3 linked regions of the Homo sapiens genome follow. The protein of the gene in region 1 purifies or fractionates together with the protein of each later gene. This does not show direct contact. Each region holds a gene or a part of one and is shown on either strand. Other genes may lie near its edges.

The links.
Region 2: the proteins of SEC62 (region 1) and LPAR1 purify together in Homo sapiens (affinity purification with mass spectrometry; 3 studies listed by BioGRID and IntAct, with this or other methods). This does not show direct contact.
Region 3: the proteins of SEC62 (region 1) and SLC7A3 purify together in Homo sapiens (affinity purification with mass spectrometry; 2 studies listed by BioGRID and IntAct, with this or other methods). This does not show direct contact.

Annotation. Positions count from the first base shown.
Region 1 is NC_000003.12:169,960,722-169,970,642, reverse strand, and holds the start of SEC62 (translocation protein SEC62), read right to left. Parts: upstream 3,837-9,921; 5' UTR 3,821-3,836; coding exon 3,785-3,820; exon of another isoform or gene 2,052-3,784; intron 1,357-2,051; exon of another isoform or gene 1,260-1,356; intron 1-1,259. UniProt on the Homo sapiens protein: Mediates post-translational transport of precursor polypeptides across endoplasmic reticulum (ER). Proposed to act as a targeting receptor for small presecretory proteins containing short and apolar signal peptides.
Region 2 is NC_000009.12:110,964,678-110,974,373, forward strand, and holds part of LPAR1 (lysophosphatidic acid receptor 1), read right to left. Parts: intron 8,882-9,696; 5' UTR 8,804-8,881; intron 7,544-8,803; 5' UTR 7,441-7,543; coding exon 7,396-7,440; intron 1-7,395.
Region 3 is NC_000023.11:70,924,286-70,929,999, forward strand, and holds the end of SLC7A3 (cationic amino acid transporter 3), read right to left. Parts: 5' UTR 5,713-5,714; coding exon 5,343-5,712; intron 4,718-5,342; coding exon 4,559-4,717; intron 4,349-4,558; coding exon 4,171-4,348; intron 3,973-4,170; coding exon 3,860-3,972; intron 3,736-3,859; coding exon 3,513-3,735; intron 3,339-3,512; coding exon 3,199-3,338; intron 3,100-3,198; coding exon 2,997-3,099; intron 2,757-2,996; coding exon 2,590-2,756; intron 2,409-2,589; coding exon 2,242-2,408; intron 1,894-2,241; coding exon 1,785-1,893; intron 1,659-1,784; coding exon 1,528-1,658; 3' UTR 1,294-1,527; downstream 1-1,293. UniProt on the Homo sapiens protein: Uniporter that mediates the uptake of cationic L-amino acids such as L-arginine, L-lysine and L-ornithine. The transport is sodium ions- and pH-independent, moderately trans-stimulated and is mediated by passive diffusion.

The DNA.
Region 1 (9,921 bases):
TACAAAATTATTTAAATTGGAAGTTTGGTTAGAATACTCTTATAAAATTCTTTAATAAATACTGTTTTTTACTTTAGAATACACCGACACTCAAATACTATAATAAGATAGAGTTTGACATTTCTAAGTTATTTTAGCCAATATTTAACCTTTTTGAGAAAAAAATCAAGAGTAAGTATGTCACAGGCACCAATCTTACAGAATTTGTGATACAGAGGAACTTTTAAAAATTACTACATCCAATAAAAATTAGCTTAGTTGATCTGTCAACCATGAACTGAGCAAAAAAGAAAAAGGCTTGGTTCAAGCAGTATAAAATATTTGTGAAAAATGCAAATAGTAGTTTAACAATAAGATCTGAAAGCTGGAGGGGACCTTAATCATTAGTAACAATATGTGCTACACAAATAACACTATACAAGAGTATCTAGACAACAGCAGTGCCCTTCTGTAATAGCTCCAACTCCCTTCTATTGTATTCTTTCCTTAGCAATGGGTTTGCTAAACTGCAAAACCCTCCATTAAGCCTTTGAGGGGTAGTTTTCTGATTTAGGACTGGCTTCCTGAGTTCTTTCTCTTCAGAATATTCAGAGTCAGAAATTAGACCTGTATAGTCTGGCTATATAGTCCCAAATTTTCTCTTTTCTTCCCTGTCCTGAAATTAAGCACATAAGCCCATGATATGTCAAGGTTTTATTGCTTGCCAGGAAGACAGATGGGTGCAACAAAAATAACTAATGGAGGGTTATAAAAGTTCTAAGAATTAGCCATTTAAATGTCTCAAAACTCAACTGGACATTAAGCAGAATACTGAATGGGATGATTCTCTTTAGCAAGGACAAGTCATGTTAAGTCTTTACGTTGCATAATTCAATAATAAAGAAGTCAGGATTAAAGTATTTCAAAGCAACTTATTTTTTATCTATTGTGAGACAGAAAGAGTATTCAGTTGGGAATCAGAAGACCTGGTCTAAATCTGGTTTTACTATCTTGATTGACGATCCTGGATTAAGTCACAAAACCTCACTGGACCTCAGTTTATCTGAAAAACGAGGGTGTTGGGTGAGATCAGTCAGCTGTAGGATCACCACTCTGCTTTCATGTTAAGACTGAATTTATGAAAAAGGCTTCCAAACAAACCCTACTAGATCCTTTTAAACTCTAAAATTTCTTGATACCAGGATTGTAAATCAACTTCTACTATGCAGCAGCACATTGTTAATCTATATGTAGTTACTGTATGAGTACATGTAGCTCACTTCTGGTTTTCAGTGACCAGTAATGAGTCCAAGAAGGAAATGTGACAACAGTCCTCTTGCTAGAAACTTCGATGGGACACGAGAATCTGAAATTATACTGAATTACAAAGAAAAAGCAAATTAGCTACTTTTTTTTTTAACCCTGAACTTATTTGTTTGTATCAAACATTTCTCCCCAATGTGCAAAGTATAATTAAAGATCACTGAATCTATTAACCATCTTTCTAAACATAAAACATCAAGCAACAAATGACAGAAACTCAGTTGGTATTACAGACCTTTTGCCTAAAAATTCTACAACAGGATCTTTTTTGTAAGTTAAACTCTGAACTTTTCATTACATTTGATCTTTTTATCACAAGTGATGTATTATAGTTTCTGATTATCTGGAATGATAAAACTGAGGTACTTTCTAGGCTAGTATATTTTCATAAGTGTGTTAGGCTGCATGAAAGTAGTACTCTAAGATCTCTCACAAACATTTTATACAGCCATGTAGAAAATTTCAAGGACAGAAAAATAAATGTCACTTAATTTTGCAGTATGCCCAGTAGATTTTAATAATCAATCCTCAAATAATAGAAAGTAAACAGCTATACTCTACATAACTCCCAACCTAATAGTTTACTGAATAGAGGGTTGTTAATCTTTCTTCAGCATATCAAAGAGTAGTTAACAAAAAATAAAATAACAATCCAATCTAAATCCTTCATCCTGGGTAAGGAGTAGAATAGAAGGGAGGGGCTGCGTGCCAAACACTTTTAATAACTTTTAATAAATAAGTTGACTCACCTATTATTTTCACAGCAATCTTAAAGTTTTTCTTTTTTCTTGCTTTTTTTTTTTTTGAGGTAAATATGTTTTCTTACCGATGCAGACAGGGAGGTAAAAATTAACTTGCTCAAAGTTACTCAGCCAATAATTGGTGGAGGTGGGGTACAAACAGGCAGTTTGGCTCAAGTTTTAGCTCTCTGCCACTGTCACATTACTCCACAGCCTCTGTTTAATATAAGATCACAACTAAATAAGAGCAGCTATTCAAAAGGTGAATTATATAGCCCTTACAACAATATTAAAGAGCAACTGGAATTGTAAAACAATGTGTATTGAAGGGCATAAAATTGTACTGTCAAGTGTAAATCTAAGGAGTTCTGTAAGTACAAATCTGACAGACAATTTCAATATACAATCTAATAAAATACTGTATACCCACGTCAGAGGAATAACACTAACTCTTGAAAGATTAAGAACAGTATAATTAGAAACTTCTACTGATCTTAAGACCTAGTCTTATCTGTCTGAACTCGAAATCTGCCTCTTTCTAATTCCCTTCTGCACCCTGTTCGGAACTACTTTATTTCTGCCAAATTCCAAAATTCCAAATTTACTGATCATGTGTGTCTTTTTCACAGCACTTAAAAAGTTTACAGAAGAATTTTAACTTGCATAGCTCAAAACATCTGTATTGTACGCCAATAAATCGATAAACTTAAAAAAAAAAAGAAGGGATAAAATGGAAGAAAGAAAAAATCATTCTAAGCAATGAAATAGTAAGGAACAGAAAGGCAATGATGAATGTAACAATTTATGATTATAGTAACAATTTACTACATGTGATCAATTTGAGGGCTTATGAAGGTTTCTCAGCACATCAGCTGATGAGACGACTAATAAATATCCTGAGTCCAAGATGTTCTACATAATTAATCCTCTTGGCAAAGAACAAGAACCAGGGAAAATCGCAAGGAAGAAATGCACAAATGACACGCATGTGGAATTAGGGGGAGATGTTATGTACGTTACTACGAGGATGACACACTGGCATGTGAAAGGTTTCTGGGCTCCACCAGCTCGTTGCAGCACCAACGAGGTTGTGGTTGTTTACACCACGTCGCCCGGAAAAAAGCCGGCAAGCTTCAAGTGGACTATTAAGTTAATAATATTGAAGGGAAAGAAGGGCAACGCAACTGAACATCTGGATGAGCAGATCCCTGCCTAGGCCCCGAGGCAGCTGACCAAGTCCAGATCATTCCCCCTTACGGTCTATGCGCACAAAGAACCAGCTGCTTTAGGTCAGTCCGCCGCCTCCTGCTACCCCTATTACCGTGGCCTTAATTTCAGGCCAGCTAAGGCCAGAGGATGGGGTGAAGGGAGGGGAGGAGCCCCGGGAAGGGTCAGCGTCTGCGCCCCAGGGGAGGCTGACCTTCCAGCTCAGGCCCGGGACAGCGCGACCACAGGAACTCCAGGCCCACAGCCGCGCCTCCGCAGCCGGATTCTGAGCGCGGCGCCTCCTTCCTTCCCCTGCTGCTCCACCACCACCTCCGTCTCTGTCTCCGCCGTCGCCAACACCGCCCCCCCTCAGGCCCCTCACAACGCGCAGCCTGCAGCCAGCTGCCTCGCGGCGGAACCCCACCCCACCCCACCCCACCTCGCCCTTGCTTTCGCTCGCCCTTTTAGGGGGCTTTCCCCGCCCCTTCCACTATCCAGCGCGCCGAAGCCCCCTGCCCAGAGCTCGGCTTTGCTACCTGGATCCGCTTCTTGTGTCTCCTGCGTTCCGCCATGTTGGCCGCTCCGCCCGGTTCCCTCTGACGTGGAGCGAGGAGGGGGCGGTGGAAACCTCGCGAGAACGCGCCCCGAGGCCCGTTATGTAATCCGCCGGCTGGCGCCCCTGGAATGGGGAGGTCGGCCGCCTGGCGGGGCCAGCGGTCCTTAGCGGTGCCTTCTCTCCCCTCTTCCCTCCGCTCCTGCTGTGCGGGAACTGGAGAATCGTTAGGACGTGGAGGAAGCAGAGAAGTGGATCAGAGAACAGGAGGGCTGGGAAGAGTCCTGGTTTCTCAATCCTGACTGAGCATCTGAATCACCTGAGAAGCTACTAAAATGCAGATTCCCCGACCCCATCCCCTTAGAGTCAGAGTCTGTGCATTTAGGGTGCGGCCTTTCTCAGAGGGATCGACTGAGACCTACTGAACCCTAGAAGTCTTTACCTGAGGCAGTTCCTGCAATGTACTGTATATTTCATGACATTCCATGTAAAAGATGACAAGACCGAGACCGTTGAGTGACAGAGATAAGAACTGACTTATCTAAGGCTCCACAGGTGGTAGATGGCAGAGCCGAGACCTGAGCCAATTATCTTTTCTCCTGCACTGTGCGGGGTAATACAGCTCGTTTAAAACAAGCTGGAGTCTCCATTCCGTTTTCCGCGTTGCTTCTCACAACTCACTGTTAGAATCCAGAAGTAAGAGAACCCGGGGAAGCGTAAGGAAGATGAATAGGACAAAGATTCTAAGAAGGTGGGAAGGAAGAAGGCTGCAGTCTATTTCAAGTCTGGTGAATTTCAATCACTGTAGCCTTTATTGTTATTTTAGAGCCACCTAGACCAAAAGAGAAGGAGCTCAAATTGCTGGTAAGTGCTTAGATAGAAATTCCCTTGACTGACTTTATAGAGATCTTTAAAGCGTTTTTAATTGTAGAAAATTGGGAAAATTCAGAATAGAAAGATGTTCTTTTTTTTTTGATGCTGAGTTTCGCTCTATATTGCCCAAGCTGGAGTGCAGTGGCGCAGTCTCGGCTCACTGCATCACCGAACTCCTCGTCTCAACTGATCTCCCTCCTCAGCCTCCTGAGTAGCTGGAACTACAGGCATGAGCCACCACACCTGGCTAATTTTTACTTTTTTTGTGTGGAGATGGAGTTTCCTTATGTTGCCCGGGCGGGTCTTGAACTCCTGGGCTCAAAACGATCCACCTGTCTCTGTCTCCTGAGTAACTGGAACTACAGGCGTGAGCCACTGTGACCGTTCAGTTTATTTTCTTATAGTATTCTGACTTTGTGTGTGTGTGTGCATGTGTGTTTGTATTTATATTTTTTCCTGTTTCCCAAATTGAGATCATATGCAATAAGGCAGCTGCTTTTTTCACTTAATGTTAGGTTGTAAGCGTTTATTATACCATTAAAATTTTTTTCCAGGTTTCCCATATTATATATCTAACCTAAGAGCAATTAAATATGTAAGTAAGGCAAATTGCAGCATCTTGATGCCTAATTTTTTAATAAAGTAAGATTGCTGAATTTTTTTTTTTTTTTTGGACTATGCAGTTCTGGTCTCAGGAGTCATTTAATTCCTTTCTCCTCTATAATCTATAATTTGGGTGTGTGTATAGTCAGGGATGGGGTGAGAAAGAAGTAATTATTCTTGCCAATTAACCCAAAACATAATATAGAATATGAAATGTCTTTATTTCCTTCAATCCCTCTACCCACCCAGAATGATGAATCTGTTTTGTGCTGTTTTATGTGGACATAAACACTGGACTATTTTATAGGAGACCTGGTCTATAAATGAAAATATTATTGCATTCAGTAGGTATTGAGTGCCTACTAGATAGATGTCAAATGTTAGGTTAGGACTATGGTGGGGAATAAAAATCCTTTATAGACAATGACTCATCCTCAAGTTACTGCCTTACTATTTTCTTCATCAGCAGAGCTTTAATTTAGTGTCCTCTTGTTCTGTCATTCACTCCTTAGATTACAACAATTTGGTTTCTACCTCCACCATCCAGTAACAATTATTTTGTCAAACCCAATACCTTCTCTCAGCTGGCATCTTACTCAGTATTTGACAATATTGACTGTTCTTCTTGACTTCTTTTCCTTCTTTGGCATGTATATCAACTTCTTTCTGATTTCTCGTTGACTTCTCTCCTTTTACCCAATTCTCACATGTTCCTGGCCACCGTTTTTATATGTTCACCTTCCTCTTGTCTCTTCTATTTGTGCATTCTGTTTACAGATTAATTCCAAAATACTGCATTCATGTTTAATTCCAGATTTCTTCTGGATGTTTCCACTGGATGTCCAACTAAAAATCACCATTTCCCCAGCAAAACCTGCCCCTTTTACTGTAAAAATCTAATAACTACATCGTTGTTCACTCAATTACTCATGCTAGAAACCTTGGATGCATCCCAACCATGCCTTTCTGCCAGTCAGTCACCAATCCTGTTGATTCTACAGCTGAGATATTTGGAATTCTTCCCTCCCTTATCATTCCCATTACCATTGCCTTGTTCAAGTCCTTATCATCACCTACGTGAACTAGTATTGCAATGGCCTTTTAATTGTTCTCCTCACTTCTATGCTCTTTACACTCCAGACCTTCTTCCTTCCATGACTCCCTGTTGTGTGTAGCAGCATGAATGATGGCTAATGTTCACACATATAACCTCAGATTTATGGGTCAAATTTCTGGGTCTCCTTTCCATTTAATATTTATATAAAAATATTTATATAAAAATAGCTCAAATCCTTTTCCCAGCACACCATCTATATTATTGATGGTGGCAGTAAGGAGTTTCCCCTAGCCACTTCTAGTTCCAACTTACTTTTGAATTTCCAATTTTACTCTTATTATTTGACAGTTATTTCTCTCCCAAACGAGGAGTATTTTTTGTTATTGTTGTTGTTGTTGAAGACAGGGTCTTGCTCTGTCGCCTAGGTAGGAGTGCAGTGGTGCGATCTCGGCTCACTGCAACCTCCGCCTCCTGGGCTCAAGGGATTCTCCCACCTCAGCCTCCTGAATAGCTGGGACCACAGGTCGTGCCACCACACCCAACTAAATTTTTTAATTTTTTGTAAAGACAGGTTTCTCCATGTTGCCCAGGCTGGTTTCTAACTCCTGGGCTCAAGCAGTCTGCCTGCCTTAGCTTCTCAAAGTGCTGTGACTACAGGCATGAGCCACTGCACCTGGCCCCTGTTCTTTCTTTTGCCAAAGCAAAACTATTAGTTACAAGAGACTTTACTGGAGATTTTTGAGGAAATGAGTTATATTTATTCATTCATTAAACAAATGTTTATTGAGGGCTTATTATGTGCCAGTCCTTGTTCTAGACACTGAGGATATACTAGTGTTCAAGAGGCAAACATCCTGCTCTTGTGGAGCTTATATTTTGGGAAGAAGAGAACAGACTGTAAAACACAAGAAGGCAAATTATATGGTACAGTCGTCCATCAGTATTGGCTGGGGATTAATTGCAGGACCCCTGTCAAAAATCTGTAACAGTGAATGACAGTGAGTAAATCAGGATTAGTTCTAGATTTTAGATGCTTAAATCTGCAGATGCTTAAGTTCCTCATAAAAAGTGATACAGTATTTGCATATAACCTATGCACATTCTCCCATATACTTTATATCATCTCTAGATTACTTATAGTACCTAGTACAATGTAAATGCTATGTAAATAGTTTTTATACTATGTAACTTTAAAATTTGTATTATTTTTATTGTGGTATTGTTATTTTCTGTTAATTTTCTTTCCCAAGTATTTTCAATTGGTTGAATCAGCAGATGTGGACCCTTGGATAGGGAGGGCCCACTGTATGTTAAAAGCCTTACAATAGAAACAAAGCAGGGTAAAGGGACTGCTTGCAGTGGGAAGGAGGATGTAATTGGAACTTAAATGGTCAGGGCAGTCCTCTTTGAGGAGATCCACTTTGACCAAAAACGGCATGAAGAAGAAGAAGGAGCAAGGCCAGTGGGTGTCCTAGGAAACCATACTTAAGGTAGAGTGAACAGCATTTACAAAAGTTCAGAGGTGGGAGAGTGCAGGTGTGTTTGAGTAATAGTATGGAGGTCAGTGGCTAAAGCAGATTCAATAGAGGAAGAGGAGTAGGTGATAAGATCAGAGGGAAATGGGGCTAGATTGTGTAGGCCATTTAATGACTTTGGCTTTCACTCTGAGTAAAATGAGGGCTTCAGAGGGTGTGCCACGATGGATTAGGGTTAGAAGAATGACATAAAATGGCTTCTGTTTAGAAAGGACCGTGATTGCTGTGTTGTGAATAGACTGTGAGAGGAGATACAGGGATAGAAGTGGGGACATAGGTTATTGCAGCAAACAGGTGAGAGATGATGGTGGCTTAGACTTGGGTGTTTGCTACAGAGGCAGTGGGACATCTTGGATTCTGGTTATATTTTGAAGGTAGAGTCAATGAGATTCTGAATATGAGGGAAAGAGAGGAATCAAGGATAACTTCAAGATTTTTGGTTTGACCAACCAGAAGAATGGAATTGTAACTTACTAAAATGAGAAATATAAGAGTGAAAGAAGTTTGGCATGAAAATATAGAAATTTAGTTTTTGGTGTGTTAATGTGAAGAAGCCTAATGGACATCCAAGAGGAAATATGGATTGCACAGCCACCTATATGAGAAGCAGATTTCAGGGAGAAGTCTTGGCTGGAGGTATAAATTTGGGAGTTGAATGGAATCAGAATATGTTGCCCCCCCAAATATGCCACTTTGGCATAAGGATAATTTTGACCTGAAGGCAAATGAGAAAATCAGACACAGCAAGAGCTCTCTGTCCTTATCTGCCTAAAAGAGCATAAATTCTCACAAAGGTGTCCCCATTCTTCTCCCATACCGAGACAAGGAAAACAACCCTTACCACCAGAAGTGGAGACAGCACCAAGATGAGTCTGCACAAAGAAACCTTACTATAATCCTTATCTACCATTAGTTTCCCCTATATTTTTACCTTCTCACAGTTTACCACCTGTATAAACCCAAACCCCCTTTTCTTTATCTAGTTACTTCTCTTCAATTTATCACCCTTTGTTAAGATGGCATATAAGCCCCGAAGTCTAACCACTTCTTTGATTTTTCACTTCTTTTCCATGAAGCCCTCATGAATGGTAAAAATATTAACATCAAATAAAATTGGTACACTTTTCTTCTGTTAATCTGTCTTTTGTCAGTTTAATGCATAGGCCTCAGGTACAGAACCTAACAGGATAGGGAAATGTTTTTCTTCCCCTACAGAGTTATCAGTGCATAGATGGTATTTAAGTCCAAGAACCTGAGGGATCACTTGCCTCCCACCACCCTCCAGGATGTCTCACAGACTTCTGCTTTTCATCCCACCTCTCTAATCCTTTCTTCTCAATCTTTCTTGCTGGGTTCTCCTCTTCCACTCTTCCTTCCAATGTTAGAATGCTAATGGCTTTCCTATCTCTTTATATGCTTTAATCCATAACATAGAGCCCACAACTTAAATAAGGAGTATTAGGTATTGATATCTAGGAGTTCCCTGGCCATCCCTGTAGGCCCTCCTCATGTCCTTTCCCACTGCTCCTGACTACCTGCCTACTTTTCTTCACTCACTCTAGAATACTTCCCACCCTTCTGAATCTCTTCTCTTTGCCCCTGGGCTCTGTCACTTCTCCCTAGGGTTGTCTCTGAAATTCAGAATTTTCCTTGCTTTATACAGTAGACAAATTGGGCTCTTTACTCTCTATTGGATTCCTTTGGACATGTTTTTGTAAATTAAGAAATTCATTACCATGTTGTGCTAAACAAAGCATTCTCCAATCTAGATCTCTCTCTCTGGAGGACTGATGAATAGGTAGGAACTTGAAAAAATTCAGTTTCCTGGGAACTTCCATCTCAGCAAGTGGAAGGGAATAATATAGAAATGTATTCCTATTGATCAGACTTATGCAAACTGGGAGCTGATAGGTTTAGTTTTTTGTTCTAAATAATACTTTCTCTGGGTCCATTTTATATGTTAAACATATATATGTGACAAAATCAAAGAGAAAATTCTAGGGAACTAGAGCAAATAACAGACCTTTTTTTGATGTCGTTTGTATAAAAGCA
Region 2 (9,696 bases), on another chromosome or scaffold:
AAAACCCATTTAATGTGAAATTCAGTTGCTTTGATAAAAAAAAAATCCACTTTCTAATAACAGAAATAAAACCTAAAACACAGATTTTGAAAATACATATTTTGTTGAGAGTACCTATTGGTAAGGATGTCCAAAAAAAAGTGTCTTCCAAAAGACAACAAACAGACACCAATCACTTTTTTTTTTTTTTTTTTTTTTTTTTTTGAGACAGAGTCTCACTGTTTCACCTAGGCTGGAGTGCAGTAGTGCGATCTCGGCTCACTGCAACCTGCCACATTTGCCTCCTGGGTTCAAGCAATTCTCCTGTCTCAGCCTCCTGAGTAGCTGAGATTACAGGTGCACGCCACCACACCCAGCTGATTTTTGTATTTTCAGTAGAGACGGGGTTTCACCATATTGGCCAGGCTGGTCTCAAACTTCTGACAGGTGATCCACCAGTCTCAACCTCCCAAAGTGCTGGGATTATAGGTGTGAGCCACAGCACCCAGCCGCAATCACTTTTTATCAGAACACTGAATGAGAATTGGAGGAACAATCTCTTAACTAAGATATTGAAAATCTACCCAAATTCACATCTTCAATGAAAGCTACAGGAAATCACTTGGAGGGATCAAAATATCTTTATGTTCTTGACTTAAAACCAAAATGGTTGTGAACAGGCAACCTACAGAATGGGAGAAAAATTTTGCAATCTATCCATCTGACAAAGGTCTAATATCCAGAATCTACAAGGAACTTAAACAAATTTAAGAGAAAAAACAACCCCATCAAAATGTGGGTGAAGGATATGAACGGATACTTCTCAAAAGAAGACATTTATGTGTCCAACAAACATATGAAAAAAAGCTCATTATTCCTGGTCATTAGAGAAATGCAAATCAAAACCACAATGAGATACCATCTCACACCAGTTAGAATGATGATTATTAAAAAGTCAGGAAACAACAGATGCTGAAGAGGATGTGGAGAAATGGGAACACCTTTACACTGTTGGTGGGAATGTGAACTAGTTCAACCTTTGTGGAAGACAGTGTGGTGATTCCTCAAGGATGTAGAACCAGAAATACCATCTGACCCAGCAATCCCATTACTGGGTATATACCCGAAGGATTATAAATCATTTCTACTATGAAGACACATGCACACGCATGTTTATTGTAGCACTATATTTACAATAGCAAAGACTTGGAACCAACCCAGATGCCCATCAATGACAGACTGGATAAAGAAGATATGGCACATATACACCATGGAATACTATGCAGCCATAAAAAAGAATAAGTTCACATCTTTTGTAGAGACATGGATGAAGCTGAAAACCATCATTCTCAGCAAACTAACACAGGAACAGAAAACCAAGTACCACATATTCTCACTCATAAGTGGGAGATGAACAATGAGAACACATGGACACAGGGAGGGGAACATCACACACCAGGGCCTGTCTGGGAGTGGGGGAAAAGGGGAGGGAGAGCATTAGAACAAATACCTATTGTATGCGGGCTTAAAACCTAGATGATGGGCCGGGCATGCTGGCTCACACCTGTAATCTCAGCACTTTGGCAGGCCAAGGTGGGCGGATCACTAAGTCAGGAGTTCAAGACCAGCCTGGCCAACATAGTGAAACCCCATCTCTACTAAAAATATAAAAATTAGCCAGGCATGGTGGCACACGCCTGTAGTCCCAGCTACTCAGGAGGCTGAGGCAGGAGAATCGCTTGAACTCAGGAGGCAGAGGTTGTGGCGAGCCAAGATCACGACATTGCACTCCAGCCTGGGCAACAGAGTGAGACTCCATCTCAAGAAAAAAAAAAAAAAAACCAACCTAGATGATGGGTTGATAGGTACAGCAAACTACCATGGCACATGTATACCTATGTAACAAACCTGCATGTTCTGCACATGTATCCCAGAACTTAAAGTAAAATATTTTAGAATAAAATAATTTAAATTCAAATAAATATAAAAATGAAAATTAAAAAATAACAAAATGGTCATGTAACAAATGAGAGACAGAATGATACACCATGAAAAATACTGATAAAGAAGACTCTTGCCTTACTGGAATCACAGGTGTGAGACCTGAATATCTTTTAGGTTTTCAGATACCTATTCTGGCCTCTAATATAATCCTAGGTTTAAGAGAAGCCAAACTGCTCACTCTGGTACTGAACTATTGACTCTTTCATGAACAATGAAAATGAAACTTTTAATCCAACTTCTATCCACAGTAACCTGATCAAGCACAGGGTAATGCTTAACACAGTGCTAGAAACAGAAAATGGCTCTGGAGAGCTGCAAGTTTGTTTGGTTTCCTACCCCATCCCCATGCCCCCAATATCCACAGGATACGAACACATTAACTCAACCTAATGATGAACAGGTTCCTGTCTGCAAATACATCCCAGGAGTTTCCTTTGGATAAGAAAACTCTTTTTCAGTGTCTGGACCAGCAGAATTATAAATCGGTTACAAACACGGCATCTTCTTGCTGCTGCTAGTCCAGTTTCGTCTTAGTATTCATCACCTAGCTTTGTAAGAGCTAGGTGCTCTCTCAGCATGAGAAAACAAAAATCTGTCTCAGAGTCAAGGCAGGGGTAAAGCAGAGAATACAAACTTGCCCCACTTCAAAAAACAAGGCATATCTTTCAACTAACTAAACAGCAATCCCAGCAGGCGTGACAATGCAAGCTTTCTTCCCTATTATTGTTTGAAACAATCACAAGCTATTTGTTCATATTAATTCGTTTATATGTAGTATTAGGCAGCCTTGATTAGAAAAATGCTCTTTGTTACCCAATGAATAGAGTAACAAACAAAACCAAAAGTTTTTCTAAAAAATTGTTGTTTTGGCCTTAGAAAAGGATTTTCAGGCCTTTCACACTTGAATGTGGATTTATCTTTACAAGGTCCCTGAATTCACTGGAAAAGAAAGCAAGTTGATGTGCCAGACAATACCAGGCTAAGGTGACTGAGTGAGCTGCTTATTATGCTTGCCTAAGAAGATGCTATATCTAAATTATTTTTACCTTCTTTGAACTTGGGCAAAACTGATAATAAGAGAGAAGACATCAGTAGAAGCTTCGGGGCAAGGGCAAGTCAGCCTTGGACTAAATTTCACTGTACAAATTACATGTGAGGAATTGACATATAATTAGGAGGCCCATCATTGGCCAAAGGATCCTGGGAACCAAGTGACCCAATGGTCTGCATCTCTCCAGAAGAAGCTATCTATCTCTATGACCTAATGTCCCAGTGTATAGCTGACTCCTTCCCCGTGGGCTTAGTTCCCCAACCATCAGAGGCTGCCACTATTCCCAAAATACGGTGAGAATAATGCAACTACCCTGGTTAAGGTTAATTAATAAACTTGCTCAATAAAACTATTATCGAAAGTCAGAACTTGAACCCAGGTCTATTTCAAAGGCTGGGACCATTAAGCTAACAAAGACTTCTTTTAAGATCAATGTTAAATTCATTAATACGGTTTGAAAGACCCTGTAAAATCTCCAACTTTATAACCTAACCCATTTATGCTAATTCTAGCACTTGCCGATTTCTGCAGTATAACTATTCCATGTGGCTGATTTCAAGCTGCTGGCATGAAGTCAATTGGCTCGCGAAATTCCTGAAAATTTAACAATCTGCTTCTGTGAGTTGGTATAGGTGGCTCTAGGGACATCACTGTTTACAATCTCATGCCCCACTGTAGTGCAACCATCCAAAACAAAATTCTAAATGCTTTGCTCCCTCTCTCTCTCTCTCTCTCACACACACACATACCTTGGGACACTTGACATTCACCTATGCTTTTTCTTCTCCTTTACCAAAATAACTCATATTAATTTGTCCTCAGCCTAGTGGTCTTCCTTCAAGAAGCCTTCCCTGATCCTCTAAATCTTTTCTTGGGTCTCCACTTTCCTCCCAGAGCACCCATACTTCCTGTATTTGTGCATTCCTGCATGGGTGACAAAGCGTTGTAACTTTTTGTTTTATCTGTGTATCTCCCACTATATCTGTAAACTCTGGCAGGGCAAAACTTATTTCTCTTATTTATTCTTGTATCCCCCAGCCCTGCCACAAGGCTTGCTGAGCAATAATAACAATGCTTGCTAATATGCACTGGGCAATATGTGCCCAGAATATGTGCCAGGCACTATTCTGAGCTTTATAGAAATTATTTCATTTCCGCCTTAAAATAACCCTATCAGGTTGGCTTCATTAATGCTATGCTCATTCCGTGGGTAAGGAAATAGAGGCACTAAGAGGGTGGATACCTTCCCCTCAGGCTCAGGTAATTAGTAAATTGAAGCAGGGTGACTGGTGAGCCTATGTGCCTCCCTCAAGAAACCAGTGTTTCTTGGCCATATTTTTTTCTCATTAGTGATCCTTAAGGAGAAAAATTAATTACATTTAAATTTTTTCTAATGAGAAAAAACTAAATACTAAGGAATAAGATTTTGTTGGATAGAGGTATAAGCTCTGGAGGGATTTTTTTCATCTCCCAAAACCCAATTTTTGTCCTCTTGGGGCAATATAACTATGTTAAGAATGTATGTTCTAGGACTTTCATTATCCATTTCCATTAATGTACCATATACTTCTCCCTAAAAATACACAGTCTTGTTTTAGAATTTTAATGGTATCTTCCCATAAGTACTATTTTGCGTCTTGCTTTCTTTTTCCTCCATACGATATCTTGGAGTAATATATAGCTGTGTAGACATCCTCATTTTAAAACTACTGAATAGTGGTCGGGCGCAGTGGCTCATGGCTGTAATCCCAGAACTTTGGGAGGCCAAGATGGGCAGATCACCTGAGGTCAGGAGTTTGAGACCAGCCTGGACAACATGGTGAAACCCCGTCTCTACTAAAAATACAGAAATTAACCAGGCATGGAGGCACACACCTATAATCCTAGCTACTTGGGAGGCTGAGGCAGGAGAATTGCTGGAACCCAGAAGGTGGAGGTTGCAGTGAGACAAGATCGTGCCACTACACTCCAGCCTGGGCAATAGAATGAGACTCTGTCTCAGAAAAAAAAAAAAGAAATAAATAAAATGACTGAATAGTATTTCAATCATGTCCACATTCCTGAATTCATTAAGTCTTTCTACTATTGGATATTCACAAAATTTTGTACTTCTTGGTTTGCAACCAATGCTTCAATGAATATCTTTATACATTCCTTATACACTCCTTGGGCTCATGTGTGAGTGGTTTTCTAATGTAGATTCCAAGACAGGAGCAGGGCATGTGCAGAAGTGTATAATTTTAATAGATACTGTTGAATTACCCTCCAGAGTGACTGTACCAATTTACTTTCCCACAGAGAATTTACGAGAGTACACATTTCCCCCAGTGATTGTATGAAATAGAACCTCTTTCTCCTTTGGGCAGTGTTAAACATTTTAATTAAATGAGTCATTTAGAGGTATTTCTATTCCTCACCAGCTGATAGGAGCTTGTGTAACAGAGAAGATATATAGATAAGAAGATGCTGTTGGAAATGCTGAAAGATGACAGCAGCAAACCGGGATGTGGAAATGCCCTGTCTAGAAAACCCGCACTAGCCTAACTCACTTCACGAAAGGACTAAGAAGAGTCATTACATGGGAACAGCTGCAGTGGACTTTGAAATGGTGACCTCAGGTAACAGGCACTAAATCTCTTTGCCCATTCTCCAAGTCTCTCAGACACCAAAAAAGTCTATTGAAGATAAGGGAAACCAAACACCCAAAGTAAATGAAGTGTTGAAAGGACAATGGTCCACTTACCAGAAAGAGGAATGCGTATGACGATGGTAACACTAAACATTCTGGAAAATAATACTAAAGGCCTTAGTACTTTATTCTTTATTCATATGATATGAATAAAGGGCTTTATTCATATGATAAAATCCCAAGGTTGATAACAATGATGACATCCCAAATGGTGTTGAGGAGAAAACACTATACTATATGAGGGAAAAATGCCCCTTGTTCTCCTTTTTCCCTCTCCTCCTTCTCTCCTTCTCTCACAAACACACAAACCCCTACTTAAAATACATACAAAATTGAATAGCCTGCAAAATCATACTGAAAAAAACAGTGTGGAACAACGTTCTGTATCAAGTTCAAATTTCAATCAGTATGGCTCTTTCTTGAAAGTATGCTTTTTTCTTCAAAGTTGCCCGAGGCCGGGCACAGTGGCTCAGGCTTGTAATCCCAGCACTTTGGGAGGCCAAGGCAGGTGGATCATTTGAGGTCAAGAGTTCAAGACCAGCCTGACCAACATGGTGAAACCCCATCTCTACTAAAATACAAAAATTAGCTGGGCGTGGTGGCGGGCGCCTGTAATCTCAGCTACTCAGGAAGCTGAGACAGGAGAATCGCTTGAACCCAGGAGGTGGAGATTGCAGTGAACCAAGATCATGCCACTACACTCCAGCCTGGGCAACAGAGCAAGGCTCTCTCTCAAAAAAATAAATAAATAAAAATAAAGTTGGCCAAAAAATGATTGTCACAAATAAGAAAGGAGGTCACACTATAGAAAGAAGATAAATGAAGAGTAAATGGGAAACTACACTTGCTGAGCACCTCTGTATGCCTCATGTATATGAACCATCATTTTATCCATATAACCATCATGTGAGGAATGATTACATGAGAGGAAACTGAAGCTGAGAGAAGCTAGCATGACTAGGGCTCTTTATCCTGCAATCAGAGGAGCAGGGATGTGAACTGTGGCCTTATGACTCCAAAGTCTGTTTCCACATTGTACCCTGCTGCCTGGTGAATCTGAAAGAGTCCAGCCAATGCCTGATTAAATCAGGCTGTAAAATCATCTGAACAAAGACCATGTCCCTGCCGTATTACTGCTCTTCACTGGACAGAAAAAAATAACTCATACGATTGCTGCTCAGAAGTTTCTGGAATTGCATTTTGTTTCAAAGTTCCTAGAACAGATCAAGGCAAAAGAGTAAGTATAGGAGGAGGACAACAAGACAGCCCTCAGAAAACTTGTTATAAAATTAGATCCATTCTGATATATTTCATTAAACCCCACCCCACCCCCCGGCCCACAAAAAAGCCAAGAGAGGAAAAGCAGCAGGGTTTACTACTGACTTACTTTGATTTAGAGTTTGATGCCTATAATGTCAGACATCCTAAGCACTGAAAACCAAGGCCTCCTATGAACAGAGGCCAGTTCACTAAAATCACTTGTTCATTGTTCCAGCTGCTTCCTGAACGAAATGGCACCTCACTCACAAAAGCACCATTATTCGAATACACACCAAATGATAGCGAGAGAGATATACATGATCCCTAGAGTCAAATACACTTCCTGAAACCCAGTTTAAATATTTGACAAACTTACGATTACCTCAGACCTCTGCTAGTTTGAAGCCCTTACCTGGGGCTGTGAAATTACAGGGATGGAAGTAGAGATGGCAGCCATGACAGCTCTGTGGTTGTAGGTGGTGAACACGCCCCAGAACTACGGGAGACAAATTTTCTTGTTTGCTGATCAGATCGAAGTCATGCTAGGAGAAGCTGTGTACCTGGAAAACAACAGGAAAACCCACATTTAGCATAAAAGGACTAGCATATGGGTGTGAAGTACCATTGGCCAAAGGAGGTAAGAATCCCTAGACATCAAGTGTCAAATACTAGCTTAATGCAAACAGAAAGCCGGTAGGGAAAAGCTAAGGTCTAAAAGCCACGACTTCTGTGCTATCTGTCCAAATACTCTTAAGTTGAGGAATTTTCATAGGTTTGAATCCAACATCCCAGCTAGATGTTTTGGGAAGACAGTTTCAAGTTGCAGAGCTGAGGAGGGTGAGTCGGGGGAAAAGCCATCCTGCCATTAAATAATAAAGGAATTGAATAATCCACAGTGGAGAGCTGACGGCTTACATAGAGGGCAAAGAGAATGCAGTAACCACCCCCACTTATCTGAGGAGTGGATTCTAAGCCCCCCAGTGGATACTTGAAACTGGATAGTGGGTCAGGTGCAGTGGCTCACGCCTATAATCTCAGCTCTTTGGGAAGCCGAGGGGGAAGGATTACCTGAGGTCAGGAGTTTGAGACCAGCCTGGCCAACATGGCAAAACCCCATCTCTACTAAAAATACAAAAATTAGCCAGGCGTGGTAGAACATGCCTGTAATCCTAGCTACTCAGGAGGCTGAGGCAGGAGAATTGTTTGAACCTGGGAGGTAGAGGTTGCAGTGATCCAAGATGGCACCACTGCACTCCAGCCTGGGCGACACAGAGAGACTCCTTCTCAAAAAAAAGAAAAAGAAAAAGAAAAAGAAACTGTGAATAGTACCCAACCCTGTATATAACAGAGACAGCTACTGAGTGACTAATGTACAGGTAGCACACACAGTGTGGAATCGCAGGACAAAGGGACAAATCACATGGACAGTATGAGATTTCACCCACACTATTCAGAACGGTGTGCAATTTACAACTTGTGAATTGTTTGTTTCTGAAATTTTTCATTTAATATTTTTGGACCAAGTTTGACTGCAGGTAACTGAAACTGTGGAAAGTGAAGCTTCGGATAAAAGTAGACTACCATAATACCGTCAAGTGATTAGATAGCACCCCGTCCAACCCCACCTATTTGCAGAAGAAAAAATTGAGGCTTAGAGAAGAAAAGGGACTAGAGTCACACATTTAATGGTAGAACCAGGACTACAGCAGCAACTCCGGTTCCCAGGCCTATATGAAACGTAACGAAGTTAATGTGTTCCCTGCCTATATCTCCTCAAGGAACTTAGTTACCGCTTTTAAGACTAAAGAAAGGCAAGATACCTGATGCTGTAGGTGTCAGTCCTGAGAAGTCAGGTACTCAGATAGGTGGATGGGGAGCTTCATAAATCAGACGTCCACCTGTGTGAGAAAGAGAACATTTCTAAAATCCTTTTGACATCCTCAAAGAGAGGATGCTAAATAAGCACAAAGTATAACCAAATCTCTTATTCACGTGTTCATTAAGAAAACTCAGAAAGATGCTAACTTCCCTGTAGTAAATCACAGCCCTAGTTCTGTCCAAAGGCTGATGTGACTCTTTCCACATTGCAATTTAGTCCAGAAGAAAAAAATTTTTCATTTTAAGAAAATAATTTTTAAAAATTCGTTTATTTTTAAGAAACATTTTCATTTTCTGGTGATGTTCATACTCCCTAACAATATCTTTTCTTTTATTCAAAAGACGTTATTGGCTGGGCACAGCAGCTCAGGCCTGTAATCTCAAAACTTTGGGAGGCCAGTGGGGGCAGATCATTAGAGGTCAGGAATTTGAGACCAGCCTGACCAACATGGTGAAACCCCATCTCTACTTAAAATATAAAAATTAGCTGGGCGTGGTGGCACACACCTACTCAGGAGGCTGAGGCAGGAGAATCACTAGAACCCAGGAGGCGGAGGTTGCAGTGAGCCGAGATCGTGCCACTGCACTCCAGCCTGGGCAACAGAGCAAGACTCCGTCTCAAAAAAAAAAAGTAAGGCTAAGCCAACCTTGCCTTTAAGGAGCTTTTGTCTGTAAATATACTTCCTAGTTTCACCAACATGCAAGATGATACCTGAACACTTTTTAAACTATTGGGAAATGATACTTTTCATAATAGTAAAAGTAATGAACCAGATGTCACAAGATCCAAGTCTTGCACAGCAGGAACTGTGGAGTTGGACATTTAATCCAAGTC
Region 3 (5,714 bases), on another chromosome or scaffold:
GAGTCTCACTCTGTCACCCAGGCAGAAGTACAGTGGCACTATCACAGCTCACTACAGACTCAACTTCCCAGGCTCAAGGGATCCCTTCCACCTCAGCCTCCTGAGTAGCTGGGACTATAGATGTGCACCACCACGTCCAGCTAATTTTTTCTATTTTTTTGTAGAAACAGGGTCTCACTATATTGCCCAGGTTGGCCTGCAACTCCTGAGCTCAAGCGATCCGGCCACCTCAGCCTCCCAGTGTTGGGATTACAGGCGTGAGCCACCGCACCTGGCCTTCCCACTTCTTTTTCTCTGCACACACACTTATAACATCTAAATTCCTTAGTATACAAGGCCATGTATACAGCCTTTTATCTTTTACCACAGCTGCATATGTGCTACCCTCCAGCTACATTAAACTGTATGCCACACCCCAAACACAATTTGAATGTTTTTTCATACTTCCGTGGTTTCTTGCACACTGTACACTGACAGCCAAGCCCTTCCCTCAGTCCACTTCTTAAGCATCTACTGCAGACTCAGTTCAAGCATGTCCTTCTTTGTGCTTCCACAGCACTCTGCACTGCCCTGGTACAAATCACACTGTTTTGTAGTCATATTTACCTGCTTGTCTCCTCCACAAGATTGTGAGTTCCTTAAGGGTGGGGATTATGTTTTATTCACATTTGTATCCCCAGCACCCACCACAGGACCTAACGTTTTATAGGAGCTTCACCTATGTTTGTTGAATAAATGGATGAATGAATAGTTCTCGTTCTGAGCAGAGCTCTGACCTCTATTTTCCTACTACTTCTGCAGCAAACAGTATCCATATATTAATATATGTGGTCCCTTACCAAACCCCCTGACTATCCACCCCTCCTCCCAGCAGTGCCAAACACCGCAGCCAAAATTTCTGATGCTCAGGCAGTTACAGGAGTGTGGGACTGGTCCAACTAGAAGAGGTGGAACAGAAGCCAATAGTTTCAGTGTAGGCCCTAACCAATGTCAGTGTTGCTATCAGAGTCCACCCCAAATCCCAGAGACAAGTGTTGCTGTCTACTTATCCAGAACCTAACCTTAAGTGTAATGAGGGGAAAACATATCTCAAGACCATTCCTTTAAGTGTGACTGGACTGGATGGCTACCTACTTACACCACCCTCCTCAAACCCTGATTCAACAAGAAGCACCCACAGGCACAGCAGATGCTTTTGTGGTAACTGAAGAAAACACAAAGGACACTTCTCTGAGGCTCTTCACTCTTAAAAGTCAGGCTCTACATCTTTAGCAAGCAAAAAACAGGACACAGTTTATTTTTCTACTTTCTTTTAATATCATTTTTTAAAGTTGGTAAGCAGCTAGACATCATTTAGAAGCAGACGGGTTAAAATAGACAAGAAATAGCAAAGACACATCCTTCACATCGTACAGAACTGTATTAGTATCCACCACCACCATCACAGGGGAGGGCTAGCTGTCACTGGGGTCAGGAGTACTCTCCATTATTGTGCAGGGGACCAGACAGCATTTAGGTGTGACGATGTCAAACTGAGTGGACATAGAGAGTGCCGGGATCAAGGTCTACAGTTTTGGCTCTAGACTTGCGTGAGGGTTGGTTACTCTTAATCTCTTCCAGGCTGTGCTGGATCCCATAGCCGAAGTAGATAGCAAAGCCTAGTGGGGAAAGGTAGCTGTGAGGTGGGGGTGTAAAGGCTTCATAGGTTTCCTACTTGAGACCAAGAGGGAAAGGAGCTGGGCTAGGACACCAAAGAAGCCTACTCTTCCCAAGTGGATACCTACCAATCAGCATCCAGACCCCAAATCGGGCCCAGGTACCAGCTGTCATCTGCATCATAAGGTAAATATTCACAAAGATGCTCATTAGTGGGAGGAGAGGCAAAGCAGGCACCTGAAAACAAAGTAAAATCTTCTTTGTACATACCACAGGTTGACCTAGAAAGAGATCCCTATCCTATGCAGGCCAGAAAAGGGTGAGTCCAACTCTTACTTGTCCTCTGCATTTCAGTAGCTGCTCATTTAGCATACCTCATGAGACTCCAAGAATATGCAGTTTGGGTAAATGGAACTGGAAAGGAACTAAAGAGGGTCAGAGAAGAAGTCTTTGGCCTAGGTACCTCCTATATCTTCCCTTTCATGTTCAATTAAAGAATATCTATGAACTTTATTAGACCTCAAGATATCTGGAGCCTATTCTCCCAAGATGGGCTGGCAAGGAAAAAAGACAGAGTTCATTTACCTTAAAGTGAAGGGGAGTGGAACTCTGTGGCTGTCTCCAGATGACCACAATGATCCCAATAATGAGCAGCAGGAGCAGCACAACCACTGCAGTCCACAGCAGGTCTCCAGAAAGCAATGGAACTGACCACTGGGCCAGCACCAGGCAAAGAGCAGTCAGCAGGACAGCTTCAAAGGTCAAGTTGAGAGACATCAAAACCAACTCTTAAGACCAACATGCTAAGACATTAGAAACCCTGTTCCAAGGAGAGTCGCTCTCTCTCTAGTTCTTCCTCAGCCACCAAATGCCACACACTTCGACCCAATCACGCTGATCTCAGAGCCACCCCAGAAAAATTCCACTGCTCACCAAGCAATGAGGAACAAACATAGACAATTTGGCCAGAGAGTGGAGTGGGGATGGAGTTGAGTGGGAAAAATAGTCCCCATAGGGTCAACTTCTCTGATTCAGTAGTTATTGCCTCCTCCTGCAACTCCACTTCTTCCCCAGTCTTTGTCTCCTGATCAGGTTGATACCTGAGGCAAAAGTAAGATGGCAGTATTAAGAACAACCTTTACTCACTTTATCATCTTCTCCCAGGCAGCTTAACCTTCCTCATCACCATTAAGGGAAGTTCTTTTTGGCAGGGTGAGATACCCAGATTCCTCAAAGAAAGTTGGAATAATGAAGGCGAAGGAGGAAAGAGGAGCAGATCTCCATCATTCCTCATCCAAGAATAAAAATCCAAATCACAGTATGCAGAGGAAGAGTCTCACCTGAGGATGAGAACACAAATCGACACCAGGGAGTAAGCAAGCAGGGTCCCAATTGACATGAGGTCCACAAGATCAGTGAGTTTGAAGAGGAATGCCATGAATGCTAAAATTAATAGGCAGGAAACAAGAAATGAGAGAAGGGAGTGGCAAAGTTAAAGAAGTTGGCGAAACAACTAAGGGAAGGGGAAAGAGGGTCTGTTACCTGCAATAATGCCAGAGACCACGGTGGCTATGATTGGGGTGCGTGTGCCGGTGTGGATCCGAGCAAGTACACGGAACAGGAGGCCATCCTCTGCCATCGCGTAGATCACCCGAGGCATGGGGAACATGGAGCCCAGGAGGCTGGAGAGGAGAATGCCCAGGGTGGCATGAGTTGACTGGGATCTCTCTTCCCAAGACTGTATGTTTAAAGAGTCTCCACTTTCCCCTCACAGCCCTTTTAAGGGGTATTCTCTGGTACTGAATGCTATAACCTGAGACTCTGACAGCAGAAGAAAACAAACATTTGATACTGACCTGGTAGAAAGAGCACAGAGGGAGCCAACAGCCACAACATAGCGGGCAGGAGCCCATCCAATGTAGAGAAATGCCTCAGGCAAAGGGCTCTCAGGCTGAAGCTGGTAGTAAGGCATCATCAGGGTGAGTGCAGAAGAGACAGCAAAATACGCCAAAAAGCAGACAGACAGTGAGATCACAATGCCCATCGGGATGGAACGCTGGGGATTCTGGGCTTCTTCTCCTGAAGGAAGGGCGTAAGGTTCTAAATTAGGGAAGCAGGCCCACTCCTCTACCACCCCCAGTCTGCATACAGCCTGGGCACACACTGTGCCCAAGCCCCAAACAGAATGGAATGACTGTGTTACCAGTGGTAGCAATACAGTCGAAACCAACAAATGCATAGAAACAGGTCGCTGCTCCACGGAGAATTCCCTCGAAGCCGAAAGGCACAAATCCTCCAGAGCCCAGAGGACCCAAGCTAGAGTGGAAGAAGGGTTGGAGAAGGTAAGGGTGTGTTCAGCCAACTCTGTATCTTTTCTCTAATGCCAAACCAGTTAGCTAGGTCTTCAAAGCCCAGCCTCCCATTTTTTCCCATCCCCATCCAGAATCCTTCAGCAGATCCCCTTCTTCCCCTTCATTTTCCCAGCTCTGCAGCTCCTAAGAGTGACCATCTAACCTATAGGTGTCATTGAGTTCAGCCATGGCCAATTCGTAGTCCTCTTCTGTGAGCTTCCAGTTGTGCACGTCCCCCTTAACGAAGCCAGAGATCATGACGAACCCAAGAACCAAAAGGTTCACGCCTGTGAACACTTTGGTAACCAGGGCCGACTCACTAGCCCCGAGAGCCAACAATCCTGTGGGAGAAATGCATTCAGGACTCCCAGAAAGTCTTCAGTCCAAGCTTTGTTTCCCTGCCTCTAGGTTCCTTCCCAGCTTTTCTTCTTCCCCACCATTATCACCTCCCTTAAGCCTTTCTCAGGCCCATCCCCCATCCTTATCCCTGGCCCCAAGGACTAGCCCCTCCTGGCCCAACCCCCACCATTATACCCTGCTCTTTGCCTCACCAGTGAGCAGCAACACGAGGCCCAAAGCAAAGAAATCTGGATATTCTGCAAGGACATGGGGCACGTGCAGTGCAATGGACCCCTGCAGAGTCTTAGAGATGTGGTTCCCAATCAGGTTGTCAAAAGCAGAGCTCCAGGCCCGGGCCACACTGGCTGTACCTGGTGTAGCAGAGAGAGAAACATGTGGCCAAGTTCCCTTCTTCCCAGACCCCAGGCTCACACAAGTCCCTGCCTTTTTCACCTATTCTTACTTTTGTTTTGTTTTGAGACCAAGTCTCACTCTGTCACCCAGGATGGAGTGCAGTGGCACAATCTCCTCTCCCTGCAACCTCTGCCTCCTAGGTTCAAGAGATTCTCCTGCCTCAACCTCCTGAGTAGTTGGGACTACAGGTGTAAGCCACCCTGCGCGGCTAACTTTTGTATTTTTAGTAGAGACAGGGTTTCACCAGGTTGGCCAGGCTGGTCTTGAACTCCTGACCTCAGGTGATCTGTCTGCCTCGGCTTCCCAAAGTGTTGGGATTATAGGCGTGAGCCACTGCACCTGGCCTATTATTACTTTTTAAGAACCAAAACCATTCACTTAATTAAGGAAACCAGGACGGAGATGGATAGAATGAGCAATTTCTCCACACCTTCAACACCCCCCCCCAGACCCCCAGCAAACCCGCACATTTAGGGAGATTGAGGTCCTGTGAATAATATAAAGAATACTTCCACCCAGATTTCCTGACCAAAAACCCCTTTGCTGGCTGTGCAGTTCCCTCCCTCCCCCACCATATCTCACCAATGACATAGGAGAGGATGAGGTTCCAGCCAGTGGTGAAGGCCCAGAGTTCACCCACAGTGACATAGCTGTAGAGATATGCCGAACCAGAACGGGGAACCCGGGCACCAAACTCCGCATAGCACAGCCCAGCCAACACAGAAGACAGGGCAGCCACCAAAAAGCAGATCACAATGGATGGCCCTGCTTTATCTTTGGCCACCTCGCCAGCTAGGACATACACGCCTGCACCCAATGTGCTGCCCACACCCAGGGCCACTAAATCCAGGGTGCTTAGGCATCTGGCAAGGCGAGTCTCAGCCATGCCTGACTCCAGTGTACGTCTGCGTACCAGCTTTTGACCAAATCTGCGAAATGCTTGCCACGGCATCC